Linked DNA regions of Homo sapiens. The protein of the gene in region 2 interacts with the protein of the main gene of each other region in a biochemical or structural test. Each region holds a gene or a part of one and is shown on either strand. Other genes may lie near its edges.

What was found. Proteins that work in one complex are often made in the same cells at the same time.
Region 1: the proteins of LDB3 (region 2) and LPAR1 interact in a test that uses a peptide from one of them, tested with the Homo sapiens proteins (one large-scale study listed by IntAct).

Annotation. Positions count from the first base shown.
Region 1 is NC_000009.12:110,877,971-110,881,470, reverse strand, and holds part of LPAR1 (lysophosphatidic acid receptor 1), read left to right. Parts: intron 1-3,500.
Region 2 is NC_000010.11:86,682,011-86,685,510, forward strand, and holds part of LDB3 (LIM domain-binding protein 3), read left to right. Parts: intron 1-3,500. UniProt on the Homo sapiens protein: May function as an adapter in striated muscle to couple protein kinase C-mediated signaling via its LIM domains to the cytoskeleton.

The DNA.
Region 1 (3,500 bases), on a different chromosome or scaffold from region 2:
TTCTCTTGGGCACAGGAAAGTAGCATTGTGGTGATCAGGAGAGTCTAATGAAGCTAAAACTGTCACCCAGGAATGTTAAAAAGAGAACATAATGAGTATTCTGCTCTGCTTTAGAGCTCTGTATGGTGTTATTATCCTTCTCTAAAAGATAAATGTTGCTCTCAAGAGTGAGTAATGAAAATACTAGAGCACATCATACAATAAATGAAATCATGAAACTTTAAATGTATGCAACATGTGCTGTGACCAGGAAGGAATGGCAGTGTTGAACACCAAACTAGATGGAGTAAAATTGGTATCAGGGTGGAAATAATATAGAACAATAATACTGTGGAGATACCTCAGGTAAATTATATAGTTTCAATAGTCAGGAAAAAAGATTTTTTAATTAATCTGGGTTATTCTTTTAGAAAAAGCGTTAATCTCAAAAAGCCATCCACATACACCCCCATTATAATGAACCCTTAGCTGCAAGACTGGGGAAGAATAAGCTTTGCATCTGTGGCCACTTTTTCTGACATAGGCTCTGTTAAGATACATAGCATTGAAGGATTTCCTAGCTAACTATGTAGTATGTGTGTACCTTAATAGCAGAAATCACAACGTAACTACAGAGATGAACTAAAATTTGATTAGATTCTGGGATACCACGCTGCCTGACCTGAGGGAATAAACAATTTAGGGAAAACAGAAAAAGCAACTTAGGCACTCATTTATTTTCTCCCTTGATTCCCACCGCAGGTCTCTGAGATGGGACTGTTTCTGGGATCCTCATTTGAAAAACAAGAAGAGTGAGGCCACCTTGGGCACAGTGCTGTTGTAGAATTGATTTACCTTGACTTGTTTTGGATCTATGGGATGTCTGGTTCTTTTGTAAAAACACAACTTTGCCAGCCAGACTAGAAACGCTTTCTGTGTTTTTCATCAAAAATCTTGGACACTGTCTCTAGAGGTCTTCTCTGGCAAGGACTGTTTTCCTCTTTAACTTTGGTTCTTGCATTCCATATGTAAGCAAAGTTCAACTAGTTAGGAAAAAGTCATTCTAGAAAAAAAGACTGTAATTGTGAGACCAGATGGTAAGCATTATTCAGCTGATGAGGTTGGATAGATTTGAGGGAAGGTGTGGTAATATGATCTCGATCTGCAGCTGTGACCTGTTGTTCCAAAACAGCCTCATTCCTCCCTGCCTTTTGCGTCTGCATTCCAGCACCTCTCCCTCCATCTTTGTGGGCATTGGGGTTCTCACAGATTGCTTTGACAGATGCATCAGGGAGGAATAAAGCTTGTTCAAGGAAGAACAACCCACGGATCTGTTTTGAATATCCTCCACCCCATGTTACTTGTAATATTGGCAAATCAGGGGACAATATAACCACTTTTGTTCAGCGTGCTGTGAGACAGTTTCCCATGACACAAATTGCCATGAGCCTATTTAGATGTAATTAAGGCATTTCCATTAGATGTCTTGCAGGTACCTCAAACTAAACACATACTGAACCCAGCTCATCAGCTGTCTTCTTCTCCTTACCTCCCTTACAAAACACCAGTAAACATTTTCTCCTGTGTTTCCTCCTTCAACCAAAGTGAAAATTTAGAAGTCATTCTAGACTTCTCTGTCTCATCCATCTCATGGAGTCCGTCTCCTAAATACTTCTCCAGTCCTTCTATATCTCTTCCCAGTGCTGCTGTCCTGATTCTGGCTTTCATTATCTCTCTTCTGGAATTTGGAAATAGTTTTGCCTTTACTTTATTTTCTTCTTCCACTCTGTCACCAATGTTGTGTCTTAAATGAAAATCTGACCAGTAAGGCCAATGAGATTACAATCCCATAGTGGGAGGTGTGGGTGAAGGTCTTTATTTTTTAAAGAAGCTCTGCAGACTATTGTAATGTGTGGCTAGGGTTGAGAATGTATGCTGGACTGGACAAATTTCAAATAGCCAGATATACAAGACCTTTGTGACCTTGGACATCTTATCTTCTGCTACTTCTGTTTCTGATGTTACAATAAATAACCACACTTCTTCATCCTTTTTTTTTTTTTTTTTTTTTTTTGAGATGGAGTCTTGCTCTGTCACTCAGGCTGGAGTGTGGTGGTGTGAGCTTGGCTCACTGCAACCTCTGCCTCCTGGGTTCAAGTGATTCTCCTGCCTCAGCCTCCCAAGTAGCTGGGACCACAGGTGTGCGCCACCACGCCTGGCTAATTTTTGTATTTTTAGTAGAGATGCGGTTTCACCGTTGTTGGCCAGGCTGGTCTCAAACTCCTGACCTCAGGTGATCCACCCACCTCGGCCTCCCAAAGTGCTAGGATTACAGGCGTGAGCTCCCGCACCGGGCCCTTCCTCTTACTTTCATACTGTTGCATACCATTCATCGGTGTTGTGCCTGGGTTTGTGGGATTCTTCTATCAGAAATGTGCTGGAAATATACAAACTACTCAAAGCACTATGACTACTGAGTACTATATTTCATTCCCCATCTTGGTAGGTGATGGCATTGACCCATGAGAACCTCCAAAATGATTTGCTTCCCTATGTTGTCTCTCTATTCCCTCTTGTTATCTTCTTCATACCCAACTGCAAGTCCTAGGAATCTCTTTATAATCAGGATAGTATTGTCTCAGAGCCTTTTGACATGCCAGCTCTTTCTTGTCCAAAACACATTTTCACATTCTGCCCTTGGAGAATCTATCCTAGGGCTCTGCAACGCCAGCGTGCCACTCACGTAAGTCATGGTGGTCAGGTAGATGCACAGTTTATAGAGGGCTTTTACAAGTTGTATCTCAGTTTGATCCTCACTGTGCCATGTGGAGGAGGCAGGGAGCTATTATTTCTCCACTTCAGAGGTGCTGAGATGGAGGTGTTTTAACTCTTATCAACCTTTCAGGTGTACGCTGAACTCTCTGTAGATTACATGTTGATGGGGTCCACAATGCACATCTCAAGTCCTGTAACCTGATTGAATTATGGTTAGCTCCTTACTATTAAAGGGGTTTAGGTGTGGTTTATTATTGTTTTCAGAAGCTCAAGGGGAAATCCTTAATTTGAGCAAAATTTATTTCAGAATATCCATTCATTGTGGGTTAGGAACCTCATCCCTTACAATTTTCCAGCCCCCATTTTCGTCTTCTGTAGTGCATCCTCATCTTTTGGTCAGTTTGATCCTTGAGGCCTCTGTGAAATAGAAAGGAGGGGGAGGGGGGCGCAGAATTTCCATATGATTGGTTTTAGATGTTGATTTCGGAGGCCTGTACTGTGAGTCACTGAAATTATTGGATTGAGTCTTGAAGATCCAAACACAGAGTGTTGGGACTGTGTGGTTGGGCTTAATCCTAGTACAAAAACCAGTTCCTTTCAGTGAAGAAGATAAAGGAGAGGAATCCAGGTTCCTCAATGAAGCATCCATACATAGAAGCTCCTGTGTCAGGCTGTGGTGTTTCCCACTTCCTGCCTTCAGTCTAGCAGGGTTCCTTGCATTTCTTGGTCTAAAAGTAAGGCTTATG
Region 2 (3,500 bases):
TCGGATTTTGCAGAGGAGGAAACTGAGGCTCAGAGAAGGTTAAGTCACAGTCCGTTTGTCCAGCTACCATGTGGCCGAGCCAGTCCTGAATTCAGGAGATTCTGACTTCCAACACTTTTTCACTAGGCCACTCCCCAGAACAGGACAGCACAGCCTGCAGCCTTCAAGAGCTATGCACAGGTCCCCACCCCTCTGGGAGCTCGGAGGCAGGAGCAGGGGAGCGTTCGAGAGGTGGAAAAGCGAGTTATCTGGGACTAGGAATAGTCTGGGAAGCTGCCTGGAGGAGGGAGCCCTTGAATTGTATATGGAGAGACTCTTTGGCAGTGGCGTGCAGGGAGCGGGTTTGCAGGAGTGACCTTGGCCAGGGTGGGGTGGCGAGGAAGCAGGACCCCAAGGAGAAAGGGGCTGTGCAGGAGAACAGCAGCCTCACCCCTAAGGTCTAGCTGGCGGGACTCTGGGAGCACAGCAGGTAAAAGGACATGGGACTGGGGCACTGTAGGGGGGAGGCAAAGGAACGGAGTCCCCACACTGGGCCTGTGTTAGCTCTGAGCCCTTCACGCTTGTTCTCTCACCCTAACTTCTACTCCCGCCCTGTGCAATTGGCATAGCCCTCTCCAGGCAGGGCAGGCTGAGTCAAGGCAGTAGAGCCTAGTGGTTCAGGGTTCCTCCTCCGAATCATGGAGGAATCACACTGTCCATGTCTCAGGGTTATTGGGAGGATAAAGGGCCCAACACTTGTAAAGCTCTGAGCTTTGTCTGTCACCCACTCACTGCATGACACCTGGTATCATCACTGCCTGGAGCCACCCAGAAGAGTCACAGTAGGAATCCGGTCAGTCTGGCCCAAGCCCATGCCCTTGCCTTTGCCCTTGCAGCAGAAGGCACCTGTGCCCCATCAGGTCACTGCTCCCTGTGGCCCTCAGCTTCCCCACCCCCCCAGCTCTTTCTAGAATCCTCAGTGAAGCTGATTTCTGGCACCACATGGCTTGCTTCCCTTACCCAAGGTGACAGAGCCATATATGCCCCCAGGGTTCCCCAGCAAAGGACTTTTGCCAGAAAACTCAGGGAATAGTAGAACAGAGATGACCTCCTTGTCCCGCATTTGTTGGGCTGGTAGGTCTTCCCGGTCCTTTTCAGGAACTGGCCTCAGGCAGAGAGGTCAGCCTCTGGTGGCCTGGGACTCCCAGGAGACCCACCTGCAATGATGATAATGTCTCCCCATACTGACCATGCACTCTGGCTATGGACCAGCTAACAGTCCACATGCCTTATCTCTCAGCAACACTCTCTAAAACAACTCTCTCTGCAACTCCAGAGGTGGGCATGATTTTCCCCATTTTATAGCTGGAAAATAGACGCTCAGAGAGAGCAAGTAATTTGCCCAAGGTCACACAGCTAGTAAGTGGCAGACAGAACTGGCATGCAGGTCTGCCTGACTCCACTTTGCATTGAGACAGGGACTTGCTGCCTGCTCAGGGAAGTGAGGGGCCAGGCCCACCTCTGCTTCCCATAGTGCCTAAGGTACTCTGCTGTCGGTGCAGGGGCTGCCCAGACCCTGATGAATGTGTAAATTATTTCTTGGTGCTCAGAGCAGCAGAGTCTGACGTTTCCTCCAAGGGATGGTGGGCTAGGGGAGGATGTGCAGTGGGTGCTTCATCCAAAGTAAAAGCTGATGCTGCTGTCTCAGGCAATGCCGGCAGGAAGGGCTGGAGCCTCTGACCTGGGCTGGCCTAGGGCAACCTCTGCTGGGCTGAGGCCACCACCTATGCTAAGTGGGTCAGCAACAGGGTCAGCAAGGGCTAATCCCCGTGCTTATCCATGGCACACTTCTCCCATGCTGAGCACCTTAGACTCATGACCCGTTCAGTCTGCACAACCCACCTGCGGGGTAGGCACTACCATCTCAAGAATTAGAATTAGGAAACAGGCTGGGACGGGTGGGTAATTTGCCCGGAGTCACAGTGCTAGGAAGAGGCAGGGTCACAACTTGAACTCTGTCCTGTCTGGCTCCAAAAAGAAGCCCCTTCCGCTACTCTCTCCTCTGGGCAACTTGCAGTGCAATTCTTTGGCACCTCGTATCCTCTTGGAAGGAGGAGAGAGAAACAGATGTGGTGCAAGGGCAGACGGGCATAGGCATCCCAGCAGCCCCCTTCTTCTCCTCCCTTCTGAGGCTGGCACTGAAGGGCAGTGCCCCTCAGGCCACTCAGTGCAAGGGCCCCTGGGCAGGTCTTACATCTTTGGCTCATCTTCCCCAAGACCCAGGCACTGGCTCCTCTCAGATGTGTCTGCTGCCACCATCCCGGCCCCAGGTCCTGGGTGGGAGAAGCTGAGCAGGAGGCAGGAATAAATGTCAAAGAAGGAGCAGGCTGCCAAGGGAGGGCAGAGGCAGCCCCCACCCCGCCAGGCCAACACTGCCCTCTGCAGGGGGCCCTGGGCTGGTCAGGGCAAGAGATGACCCTGCAGCTGTCAGCACTGGCCAAAAATGGAGAAGGAATGGAGCTCCGTGCTGGCCCTTTCCTAATATAGCTCCACTTGCAGCTATTTTGAGCCTGGGAGGATAGAGGGAATTTTATCAGTTCTGAGGCAGTGGCGGGCCTGGGGCAGAGCAGGGCCACTGTGCTGCTCCCTGGGACCGGGGACCACTGACTTGAGCCTGGCTTCCCAGGGTTTGGCTGCAAATGACCAGGGCCAGGCTGGCCGGGGCCCAAGCTCCCCCAGCTACAGCCCACACTGGGCAGATTCAAGAAGGTGGCAGAGTTTGGGGACAGAGCCCCCCACCTTCCACACTGTCTCCCTCACAGGCCCCCGACAGGGCTGCTGGCCACAGGGTCTGCCACTGCAGGGAATTTGCATTTAAAGAAACACAGGACAGACACTGCTTTCCCTACAGAGACCATGCTCTGGGAGGCTCACTCTCAGGTCAGAGTGAGAGGAAGGGGCCTCTCACTGTGCTGCCTCGGCTGTTGAGCTCACACTTCTCCCTGCGCCTGCTCGCTCCTCCATCCTGCCTCATTGCTGGCCCAAGGGGCCTTTAGGAGTGGCCCCTGGTGACTGTGCACCCCACTCCCCTATACCCCAAGAGGAGCAGCCAGAGCTGCCTGCGTCTCTTCTGGGAGGGAGAGGAGGTCAGGTTTGGGGGGGCATAGGAAACCCCGCGCACACCCTGCCTCCTTACCACTGCAATGCCTGCTCAGGACAGAATTCCAGAGCTGCCCCCACAAAACAGACTCTTAGTCCGGAGCTGCTGACAGGCAGGGAGGCCCCTGGGCCTCAGCCTTTTCCATAGCAGCCACAGCTGGTCCTGTCTCCACCCCTAGCTTCCACTCTGGGGTCTATAGCCAGGTTTGTATGTGGGGGATTCATGTATGCGGTACGAGTGCCCCTGAAGATAGACAAGAAAACCCTTCTTCTGGCAAAGCAGAGGGCACTGGGGACCCCTCAAGAGGGAAACATTGCTGTGTCAGTCTCTGAACCAAACCGAGGGTCCCAGTAGCTGTGAT